2 linked regions of the Homo sapiens genome follow. The protein of the gene in region 1 interacts with the protein of each later gene in a pairwise test. Each region holds a gene or a part of one and is shown on either strand. Other genes may lie near its edges.

What was found. The genes of interacting proteins can lie anywhere in the genome.
Region 2: the proteins of LONRF3 (region 1) and CTAG1B interact in binary tests that used the Homo sapiens proteins (3 or more experiments, as listed by UniProt).

What each region holds. Positions count from the first base shown.
Region 1 is NC_000023.11:119,012,618-119,018,884, forward strand, and holds the end of LONRF3 (LON peptidase N-terminal domain and RING finger protein 3), read left to right. Parts: intron 1-262; coding exon of another isoform or gene 263-284; exon of another isoform or gene 285-421; coding exon 422-584; intron 585-1,589; coding exon 1,590-1,739; intron 1,740-4,917; coding exon 4,918-5,073; 3' UTR 5,074-5,738; downstream 5,739-6,267.
Region 2 is NC_000023.11:154,617,080-154,623,248, forward strand, and holds CTAG1B (cancer/testis antigen 1), read right to left. Parts: upstream 2,204-6,169; 5' UTR 2,140-2,203; coding exon 1,871-2,139; intron 1,195-1,870; coding exon 1,060-1,194; intron 821-1,059; coding exon 682-820; 3' UTR 530-681; downstream 1-529.

The DNA.
Region 1 (6,267 bases):
AGGGGGTCAAACTTGCCCTTTTATATTAATAACAACCCTACTCTACTTTCACCATATCAGCATTAATGCATTCATGAGGGTGGAGGCCTAATCACCTCTTAAATGTCCCACCTCTTAATAATGTTACAATAGCAATTAAATTTCAAAATGGGTTGTAGAGGAGGCAAACATTCAAACCATAGCACTGGCACAGCACATAGTATGTGCTCAATAAATGGTAGCAGTTACACGAATACATTACGAATTTTTTTTCTTCACACAGGCACTGCCTGTTGTGTAATTGAAGCTGTAACCCAGGGACAGGAAAATAGGCAGAAGTCCCTTGAGCCACAGCATGGGGCTACAGAAATGGCTGGGTGCCAGCCCAGGGAAACAGAACTCATCAAGGATCTAGTCTCTCGACTCCATTCTCAATAAACAGGTTTGCAGAATATGGCTGCATCCTAGAGATCAGAAATGTTCAATTCTTTGCTGATGGCCGCTCAGTGGTTGACAGCATAGGCAAGAGGCGCTTCAGGGTGCTCCATCAGAGCCAGCGGGATGGCTACAACACAGCCGACATTGAATACATTGAAGACCAAAAGGTAAGGGTGGCCAGTGCCAAGAATCCCAAAGCCAGGCTATCCTTGTAACTTGATACACAAAGATAGTTGTGAAAGGATTTCTCAGAACCCTTGAGGGCCTTGGGATTTCACACCAAATTGCTGCAGCAACATTGAATGCTGCTGGATTGCTGTCCAGTTGCACTATGGCAGTGAGGGCGCCTACTGTCCTGGCTCTGCTTAGCTGCTGAGTTGCATTCATGCATAGGAAATGTTATCCTAGATCAACCCTGGGGCTCATTCAGCTTGGGAGTTAAGTCTCTGCCAAAGATTGCAAGGAATGGATCTGGGGTGGGTCTATACATATATATTTTATCTATCGATTTATGTATATTTTAAACTTTTTTCTTTTGAGACAATTATAGATCCACACATGCATTTGTATTTTAAAGTACGTAACCTGGCTAAGAGCCCTTCCCAATAATCCATCATCCCCTAAGGCAGAAAGATGACACATCTAGTTAATCCTTGGTTTTCTGAGGTAATGGGTGGAAGAAGAGGTAAATAATCCTATATTCATTTATATTTACATTTGTTACATAGTAGATTAATAAATATCTGATGACTGAGTAAATGTGTTTGACCAAGATAGTTACATGCTGAGACTGACATACTCCTGTGTCTTTTCCAGCAAGTAATGAGAAAACAGATGTAAAAATGAAAAGGGCAAAGGCATGGACCAGCATAACCTGGTTTAACCACATGCCTCCACTCAGGCCGGTTTGAATCTCTGGTTTTCTGCATGTTTTGCTGTTTCAGCTAATCTACCCAGCTGAACCTTTCTCCTTCCTCCATGGTCAGCAGTATCTACACACTGTCCAGCACTTGACTAAGGGGCATTTCACATCAAGCAAAGGAGAAAGCTGAATGGGTGAGCCTTCCCATAGGAAGGCAGGATGGATGCTCAAAGCGAATCAGGTGTCAAAAGTGACTCTGGGAATGATGGAGAGGGTACAGAATGTTTCACTTCCACTTTGATACTTTCAGGTTCAGGGAGAGGATTGTGCTGAGCTCATGGGATTACATAACTGTGTCTATCAGCAAGCATCATTGTGGTTTCATTCGCTCAAATTATCCCTAAAGAATCGGATACTCAATCACTTTGGTCCCATGCCGGAGAAAGACGCCGATCCTCAGGTATAGAAAAATGTCTATTTTTAAACGGGTTGTCCCACTAGAAGAGAGTGCCTAGTGTTTGTGATTAGATGGGTATGTGGCTGCCATTCAGCACATCGAATGCAGAGAGGAAGATGGATTTAATTTGGTGTTGTTTGGCTGCACAGTGAGCGTCATGAGTAAGACCAAAAAGATCCCAAGTTAGAATCGGGGTAACTAAAGTAAAGCAGTAGGAACTTGGATCCAAGGCAGGTTTTGAGAACTAAGTAAGATAAGAGAATGGGAACATAGATATCACCAACAGAAGAACCTTCCATGGGAGTCCAGATTCACACCATGGTAGTGTTAGGGTGACAAGTTACATGCAAAGGCCAGGACTTAAGAGAAGGGTATCCTGGGAGCTGAGACCAAAAGCTGCTGCTTTCAGGTAACTTCATAACCCTCTCCCTCATTGCTTTGGGAACTAGGGGATAGGGCCAGCTACCCTTATAAGATTACAACTGCAAGACCACAAAAACTTTTCGTGCCTCGGTCTATCTATGCTTCGCCCTGCAAGTCTAGACCCTTGCTATTGTCCTCACCAGGGCTGAACAGCTCTGTTCATCATTAAATACTGTTAGTTGAGTTATACTAGACAGTAGTTTGTTAGGTTCTACTGATCAGTGTTCTTCCTGGGGGATAGGCCTATTTGAAAGATCAAGCTGCAGATCAGAAGCTCCCTAGGAGAGTGGAGATGGTTAAGTTTCACTAAGCTTTGCTTGCCTGGAATAAATCAGGGAATACTGTCTTTCTAGGATAAGGCTGGAGATATCCTAACCACATATTTCCTCACGACCATCTCTTCCTATGCTCCAAGCTGGCTCTCCTACATTGATTCTTTACTTATGCTCATCCCCAACTCTGTCACAAAAGAAAAAATCTCAATATGCATATTCTGACCAAAAGTCTGGTCCTGCTTACCTCACTAGCAGTATGACCTTGGGAAGATTCCTTTCCCTTTCTCAACTTTTGTCCCATCTCTGACATGAGGAGGGTTCTAAAGCCCCCTCTTCCTCTTGCATTCTGAGGTTCTAAGACACCAGTCTGTTCCCTAAATGAAATGTCTTGCTTTCCTCAGACCACAAAGGTGGCTTCTTTCCCCCCCCATGCAAAGGCATCATGAGTTTTCAAGGGAGAAAGGCCAGTTAGTGCTTCCTGTGACCCAGCTCCTGGCTCTGGGCCACGATGAGTCAGGACTGCAGCATATACCTCTGAGCAAACTCACGATCAAGCTTAATGTTCCCCTTCACCTTCCGGGAAGCGTTCTCCCTTAGGCAAAAGATACAGATCAGCAATGGTAACGGGAAAACACAGATGCTACAGTGTGATTCATAAAGGCTAATGACAGAGAAAGTTGAAATCTTGGGTTTCACTTCCTTTTTTCTTAGTTCTGTTATTATGTTGCTTTGGCAGCAGCAGCACCAGCAAAAAAGAAAAACCCATACCCATCCCAGTTTGCTCCAGTCAATGCTGCATCCCCAGTGGTCCCACAAATAAGCATGTTCTGTCAGGAGGATGTTTCTTAGAAACTGCCACAAGTGTTAATACCAGCTTAAATATCTTTGTTGGTGATCCTTGGAAAGAAAGTTCAGAACATCAGTCTAATATTCAGAACTGATCATAGGAGGGAGAGCATATTGCCAGCTTCAGGGAGGGACAAAAAAGAATGCAAATGAAGTTAGAGGCACAAAGAAGCAAAGAAGGCAGTGAGATTTGGTGACGATCAGAGGAACCAATTTGGAGCCAAATAATTTCAGGTGTAGGCACTTTGACCAGAATGGTTCTCTATAGTCCTAAAACCAAACTTGTGAAAGTTGTGGGCAGAAAGCTCGTTTTAGGCTTAGAAGGAAATAAGTACCCAATGTCTAAAATATGTGCCAGGGAAGCTGCTTTGGGGAAGGATTTATGTGGAATGGGAAAGCTCTTTATTAAAAGGAAATCTAGGGGCAGAATATATTTCTTTCTTTCTTTCTTTCTTTTTTTTTTTTTTTTGAGACGGAGTCTTGCTCTGTCGCCCAGGCTGGAGTGCAGTGGCATATCTCAGCTCACTGCAAGCTCCGCCTCCCAGGTTCACGCCACTCTCCTGCCTCAGCCTCCGGAGTAGCTGGGACTACAGAAGCCCGCCACCGCGCCCGGCTAATTTTTTGTATTTTTAGTAGAGATGGGGTTTCGTCGTGTTAGCCAGGATGGTCTCGATCTCCTGACCTCGTGATCCACCCGCTGGCCTCCCAAAGTGCTGGGATTACAGGCGTGAGCCACTGTGCCCGGCCCTGGGGCAGAATATATTTCTAATGTGAATGTTTTCTAATTGGAATTTTTGCAAAGTGAGATTGTGATTCTTTGGGACTGTAAATCATAGCCTTTGGTTTCAGGGGAGAAGAGAGCTATGGCCCTGTATAGTGACATGGTATACATGGACTATTGCCTTCAGCCACATCAAGGAAATGAGGGGACTTAAAAGACATGCAAAGGTCAAGGGGTCATGGGAATCGAAGGCCTGAATGTTAAATGCATCAGTCCAAAGGACCTCAACAGAATATTAGAAGTGGAAGAGACTACATAGTAGATACCAGCTTGTAAAATCACATTGGCTAGGAGGCATGGTGTATCTGTTAGGATACTGGTTGGTTTGCTTTAACAAGAAACAAAAATGACTGGAGCTTAAACAAGATGGAGGGGCTAAGTCTTGGACAGTTAGGGCAGCTCTATTCCACAAGAGCATTCAGGCACCCAGGCTCCTTCATCACAAAACTCTACCATCCTTAAAATGTCTCCCTCATCCTCTTGATTGAGAAAGGCTGATCCTCACCACGTCCATGTTCTAGCTAGGGGAAAGGGAGAGAAAGAGGAAGGCAGAGGGCATATGCTTCTTTCCCAGAGCATGACCAAGAGGTTACACATATCACTTCCCTTTACATCTCATTAGCCAGAACTTTGTCTCATGGCCTCACCTAGCTGCAAGGGAAGCTGAGAAATGCAGTCTTTTTTCTGGGTGGCTATATGCCCTGCTAAAATAAGGGGGAAAATAGATATAGGGTCAATTAGCAATCTGCCACATGGAGTTGTTCTACCTGGGGTCTTTACCTTGAGCATTTGGAACTCTGCAGACTGATGTTCTTGGATGGGAATAGGATGACTCCATTGTGTTTCTCTGTTGCAGATGAACCCGAATGGCCCAGCCTGGTGCTGGTGGATGTTAGCAGTTCTTCCCTTGGAAAGCCGAGCTCAGCTCCCCTTCCTAGCAATGAGGTCCTTAAAGGACAGACTGAATGGTATTCGACGAGTCCTGGCCTTCATATCCCGAAACCAAAACTAGTGAGTGGATTGCCGAAGAGGAGCTCCCACCTTCCCCACTGCCGTCGGGGGGAGTCTTCTTGTAAATATATCTAATTGCAATAATATCTTAACAGAAGGGGGTGTCAAACAGAGGCATCAGCCTGCTGTTGATCACAGAGAGAAATTGAGTAGAAAGACCAAAAGAATGTGACCTATTTGAAACTTTCTGTCTTAAGATGCTTCTTGACATGCTGCATAACTACATAAACAGCAGAGGTGTTTAAGAGCCCAGAAAAACATAATTTGATTTTAACATTAAAATTTCCAAAAGTTTAAAGTGGTTTTGCTTTAATATTCTTTCTTTCATAGATCAATGACTGTGTGGTTGAAATGTGAAAACAAAGATACTAATAATGTTGCTGTATAATTTCACTGACTTGAGGTCTCATTCCAAATGGTTCAGGTTTTATAGAGCATTGTGTAAAATAATGTTCATACTTCTTTCTGTTTTAATAATTTATTTTTTGCACTACTGTATCCTTTTTTCTACATGTATGTTTGTAACTATTTAAGCGTACATTGCTGAAAAGTCCATTGCTTTATTTATTGATGTGGTTTACCATGTACCTAGGGGGAAATAACAATACTAGAAGTGTGCAGTTTTTGCTTTTATCTTTTTTTTACTACAATGACACTAGTTCTTAGACCATTTCCGTATCTATCCAAATGGATGCTTAAAAGAAGTTCAGAATGATGCTAAGATCATCTGTCTTCAGAGTCCACTTTTTTTTTTCAGTTTGAACTAAACAATATAAAATACTTAAGGGATTTGGCCTAGATTATGGTATATGCCAAGGTAAAGTAAAATAATTCATTTTCTGTGTGTAATACAGAACAAAGCTGAAAGAATTATTTTTATTATAGGCATTTACTTCAGCAATCTAATTGTACGTGTATCTAATTTTTCCCCAGTGCAGTTAGGAATCGGATTTTGGGCAGGATCATAATTAACTCTTCAGAGGAAATGGTGTTCAGTTTAGCACATCACAGTCATGCCCAACTAGCCTCCATAACCCACCTCTCCCCGGGGTTCTGAGGATCAAGACCTGGACAGAAACACTTGATAAGGACTTTTTATTATTAAAATGTAAATAAGACAAATAGAGTAGAACCCTATAAAAATCTTTTTAAAGGAACCAGATGGCCGGGCACGGTGGCTCACGCCTGTAATCCC
Region 2 (6,169 bases), about 36 Mb from region 1:
AATGATTTTTCTACAGACAGAATCTCGCTACATTGCCCAGGGTGGCCTCCAACTGCAGGTCTCAAGCCATCCTCCCGCTTCAAGCCTCCCACAGCGCTGGAAATACAGGTGTGGGCCACCATGCCCAACCCATATCACATGCTTAACAGTGATATGATAATGCTGGTTCTATGCATCTATTCAAGTACGTTTTCAAAGAATTTTTCCCAAGTAAAAAAGCTCATATGTTCAATGAAAACAATTTGGGAAAAAATTTAATGCTGACCTGGAAAAACATTATATATGCTACTGTCATATATTTAACATATAAATGCAAGTATATTGAGGAAAATATTCTAAAATGTCCACAGTAGTTAATGCTGAATGGCGGGACCCAGTGGCTTTTCATTTTCCCCCATTTCCCAAATTGCCTCCCGTTACCTTGTGCTACTTCAATCTGTGAATCCCAGAGCCTCCCCTGCAACCCGAGGACAAGGGCATGCAAGTCCGAAGGTGCCTTCGCTCGCCGAAAAGAGACTCAGACACGGAATCGTAGCTCAGTTTTATTTTCTACAGAAACAAACATGTAAGCCGTCCTCCTCCAGCGACAAACAATCAGGCCCCCACAATGAACTGGCCACTCGTGCTGGGACCATTCCCTAGGGGAGGAGGCATGACCTAGGAAGGGGCGCCAGGCTGGGCTTAGCGCCTCTGCCCTGAGGGAGGCTGAGCCAAAAACACGGGCAGAAAGCACTGCGTGATCCACATCAACAGGGAAAGCTGCTGGAGACAGGAGCTGATGGAGAGCTGCAGTTGGCGGTGGTCTGCAGCAGTCAGTCGGCTAAATGTGAGGGGCAGAGAACATCACGTTAAAGGCGACACCTCTGCACCCATCTCCCTGGGCTCCCTCGGGTGGCGGCGGGCCTGGTGTACCAGGTCTCTGTTCTGAGACCCTGTGCTGGGGTGTTCCCAGGTTTCTAGCAGCCTGACCGTGGGGTGTAGGCGGATCCCAGCCCCCACCCTGCCACGCTGTGACCGCCACCCACCCAGGCCCCATCCCTGTCCTGGTCCTGAACTGACATAGTCAGTATGTTGCCGGACACAGTGAACTCCTTCAGAAGCACCCCTGGCACGGGAAGCGGTGGGGCATCCTGGGCCAGGCTCCTGCGGGCCAGCTCTGCTTCCATGGGTGTCGCGAAAGGCATGGCGAGGTAGCTGGTGGGGGCCCAGTTAAGGCATCCTCTCCTAGGACTTGGCCTGTGGCTCCGGCCTGCTGCTTACCCCAGGCCAGCTTCCCCCTCCCCCACTCCCCCACCCCTCCCCCCTACCCCGGATTGCCCAGCCCATCCCCCCCAGGCTGTCTCCCCAGGCACTGGCCCAGTAGCACACCCCACCCAGCTGTCTTGGTTCCCCACTTTCCTTTGCTGCACCCCAAGCTGACTCCTCCATGCCCTTACAAGACCCCTCCCCACCCTGCCCCCTGTGGCATCACCCGGCCCCCTCCTCATCACTCGACCCTCCATCCCAACCACCTCCCGCCACCCGCTCCCATCTTGCCCCCTTCCCCCCACCTCCTGATCCCCTCCTACACCTGGGTCCCCCTATCTCCTGGCCCCTGCTCCCCTCCCCGCATGACCCGGTGCCCCTCACCCAATCACCCAGCCCCTCTCCCCCACCCCCACCCCCTCTACCTCCCAGCCCTTACCTCCTCCCCTCCTCGCAGCTGGCCTCTCATATCCCCACCTCCCAACCCCCACCCCCACCCCCACCCAACCACTTACTCGCATCTCCCCCGCCTCCTCCCCCACCTGGCCCTGCCCTCCCCATCTCCCGGCCCCCACCTCGCCACCAGAACTGTCAGAACAGAACAGAACAGAACAGAACAGAATACAACTCAAGCAGGCGGCTCTCCGGCCCCCTGGCCCCGCATCTGCAGCATCCATTCAGCCCTGAAGCCGCGCCGCCATGCGGACCCCGCGGGGCGCCTCCTCCCGGCCCCGAGGCCCTTGCTGCCCCTGCGCCCCGGGGACCTCTGCCGCCCGTGGCACCCGCCTCTCCTGGGCCGCCAGCATTGCCCCCTGGGCCATCAGGAATGCCAGGGCCTCCTGGGCCATCAGCATCGCCCGTCGAACCCCCTGTGCCCCGGCCTTCGGCCTGCATGGCTCCGGAGCCTCTGCCCGGCTCTCAGAGAGAAGGTCAGGGCCCACGAGGATGCGGAGGCAGAGAGGCTGCAGGAAGTTCCGCCCCCTGGCGTGAGATGGGCAGCCCGGGATCCTCAGGGCGCCTGCGCACAGGGGCCCTACTTCCGGCCCTGGGAGACCCCGAGTGAGCCCCGGAGCACGTGACCGGTTCTCACCAACCCCGCCCCTCCCCAAGAGAGCCCGGGCCGGAAGGTGGCCGCAATGCCAGCTTGGACCCCTCACCCCTGAGCAGCCGGCTGTCCGCCGGACCCCTGTCCCGGGAGCCCTGCAGGGAGTCAGGCACTGCGGGGCCCAGCCTGTCCCATCCCCCGGGTCTCCCTCACATCGAGGAGCAAGACGGGCCTGGGAACACGGGGCCGGGACTGTGCGGCCATCGTCCCGGACCCTGCCTGCCCTGTCCGTCCTTGGGGGAGCGCCCAGGACAGACCCCGGGGGGCAGGCCTCTAACTGGGCTCAGCAGCCTCCGTCCCTGTCCTGGTCGCCCAGCTGGTGGGGTAGCTGGAACTGCATGTCTGGTGGGCGTGGCCTCGCGCCAGCCAAGGTCTCCCAGGCGCCAGGTCCAGCCAAGGTGGACGGGAGGGCCCAGCGGGACCCGGGGCCGGATCTCACTCCTGGGTTCAACGGGTTCTGTCCCTGTCCTAGTCGCCCCGCCTGGTGGGGGAGCTGGAGCTGCGTGTGGGGTGGGTTGCGGGTGGCCTCCCACCAGCCAGGGGCTCCCGGGCTCTAGGCCTGGCCCAGGTGGACAGGCGGGACCTGCTGGACCTGAGGCTGGGTCGGGCCTGGCTCCTGGGTTCGGCAGTATCAGTCCCTGCCCTGGTCGCTCTTGCCTGGTAGGGAGCTGGGAGGTGACCCTGTGTCTGCTCAGTGGTGATCTATTTGTGTGTCTGGAAGGGGGTCAAATCCACGGGACAGGTACCTCTAGAGGCATGCAGGGGTGAGGGCGGCACGGCCCCGGGAGCTGAATGTCTGTGCCAGGCACACCTGTAGCAACAGGAGGTGACCAGACAGGGCCTAGCCCTGAGGAAGGGGGAGGTACTGAAATCCAAACCACTCTCCCCCACCTTCCAAATCCAGGAATCAGCAGCCTCTGCACCTGGGAAAAGCATATTGGCACTCATGTGGAAACTAAAAACGTTGATCTTTTGGAGGTAGAGCAGAATGATGGTTACCAGACGCTGGGAAAGGTGGGGAGGGTGGGGAGGTTAATGGGGACAAACATATAGTTGCATAGAAGGATTAAGTTCTAGTGTTTGATAGCACCGTAGAGGGACTATAGGTAATTATTTATTGTATATTTCAAAATAGCTAAAAGATAGGAAATGTTCCCCAAAAAAAGAAATGATAAATGCTTGAGGTGGTGGAGATCCTAAATACCCCGACTTGATCATTACATCGTGTGTGCGTGTGCATGTATCAGAATATCACATGTATCCCATAAATATGCAGAGTTATCATACATCAGTTAAAAATGTTTTTACTTACAGAAAAGAAAAATTCACCCAAGCTCTTGCGTGTACCTCCAGTTTATTATTTTCACTGCTGTATTTCATTACATATATTTCATTAAATGATGAATTTTAAAAACCAGAGAACACAACTTGTTAACACCTGGAATAGCTGAAAATCAGACATAACCCGGTTAGTGATTGCCATCCTTCCTGTCGTCCTCTGCTCAGTCTCCCCATTCTCAGACAGAGGCAGGCTAAAGTTCTTACCTTCAACAGGTCAGGGAAGGGAGAGTAAAGTGCATGTGACCCTGTCTTAGGAAGCAGGAAGACAGAGGGAGGGTCTCCGGGTCCCCATTATTTTCCCGGCCTATTATCCTCAGATCAAGTCAAGAAAGGAAGTCCTAACTGATTGAGAGATTCCTGGAGATACTGCCACTGTCCTGGAAGTCTCAGCCAGCCACTGGACCGGAAATCTCCATCAATATTTCAGCCAGAGCAACGTCTGCCACTAGATGGCATCAAACTCCAGCCGGGAGCAGGACAGATTTGGATGGTCCAGCGGGCTTGCCTCATTCATTTCATTAACCCCACAGTAACACATTTTCACATTGTATGCGATTGGATTTCTTGGAAACTACCTATTACATTACGGCAGAGTTTTATAGTCCTCTAATTTATCCATTCTGCTGATGATGGGCAGGCATTTGGATAGTTTCCAGCCCTTGGCTATGAACATGCTTGTACAGGTCTCTTGAAGCACATGTCCAAGTTTTTTTTTGGAATTGCTGTATCACAGCCAATACATATCTCGAAATTTACTAGATAATGCCATGTTTTCCCAAGTGGTTTGAGCCAATTTTCGCTTCCACCATAATGTGTCAGCGTACATACACATAGCTCAACATTCTCATCAATATTGACGGTACTAATCCGTTCTCGCATTGCTATAAAGGACTACCTAAGACTGAGTAATTTATAAAGAAAAGAGGTTTAATTGACTCACAGTTCTGCAGGCTCTACAGGAAGCATGGCTGGGGAGGCCTCAGGAAAGTTACAATCATAGCGGAAGGCAAAGAGGAAGGAGGCACATCTTATATGGCCAGAGAAGGAGAAAGAGAAAGTGAAGGGGGAGGTGCTATACACTTTTAAACAACCACATCTTGTGAGAGCTCAACATCACGAGAATAGCAAGGGGGAAATCGACCCCCATGATCCAATCGCCTCCCACCAGTCCCCTCCTCCAACACTAGGGATTACAATTCAACATGAGATTTGGGTGGGGACACAAATCCAAATCATATCATTCCACCCCTGCCCCCTCCCAAATCTCATGTACTTCTCACATTGCAAAATACAATAATCTCCTCTCAACAGTCCCCCAAGTCTTAACCCATTTCAGCATTAACTCAAAAATCCACAGTCCAAAGTCTCAACTGAGACAAGGCAAGTCCCTTCTGCCTATGAGCCTGTAAAATCTAAAACAAGTTAGCTACTTCCAAGATAAAATTGAGGTACAGGCATTGGGTAAATACTCCCTTTCCAAAAGGGGGACATCGGCCAAAACAAAGGGGCTACAGGCCCCATGCAAGTCCAAAACCCAACAGGACAGTCATTAATTCTTTTTTTTTTTTTTTTCCACTACAAAATAATTTATTCGAACACACAGCTACAGCGCGAGACTCCTATGTACAAGCACATTGACGCTCCTGACTACCCTCAACTAGAGGACCCTTTTCTTCCCCCTTGCCTTGCAGACCTCTTCTATCGAATCTTTCATGTACTGGATCTCCTCGGCCAGGGAATCCGCCCTCTCTTGCAGAGCCTCGTTCTTCTTTTCCACCGCTTTGCACTCACCAGTGAGGACCTCCTGCTCCACCCTCTTCTTCTGGCGATACCTAGTTCCTGCTGTTTGGTTTTGCTCCATTTTTTTTTCAGCTTCTTATCCAGTTTCTCACCCTTTACTTGTGCTGCTACCATCTTCTCTCCAGGAGGGTCATAAGGTTTGGGGCAGGCAGAGCCACAGAGGACACCTGGAGATGGCGGGCTCCTACTCGGAGAGCCCCTGGAGGTAGAGGGAGAGCCCAGATAGGACTCTGGGCTCATACAGATGCCACTATCATTATCTGAGGGGGCGTCTTCCTCCTTTGTGCAGTGAGGGATCTTGGAAATGTAAGCAGTGGAGTCTGGCTTCCTAGCTCCTTCAAAGATATCCACTTCACTGCCCAGCTCTAGACTAAAGGAATAATCTGGAGTGGAGGACTGGACCCCTGGGGAAAGGGGAAGAGGTTGCAAGAAGGTGAAGGGGGCAACCTGGTCGGGTTAAACTTTCTGGGAGATGGCAAATCGGGTTCACCATCTGGGGGGGGCTCCTTAATAGTCTCCTGGACTGGGGGGGCTCCTTAATAGTCTCCTGGACTAGGGGGGCAAAGAGATCACACGAGTCATCCAACGTGGCCAGAAGCTCGTCTGGCATGGTTTCCAGGTCATCTATACCCAACAGGGCATCAAAGTCGAACTCCTTCAGATCAGTTTTCTCCAACA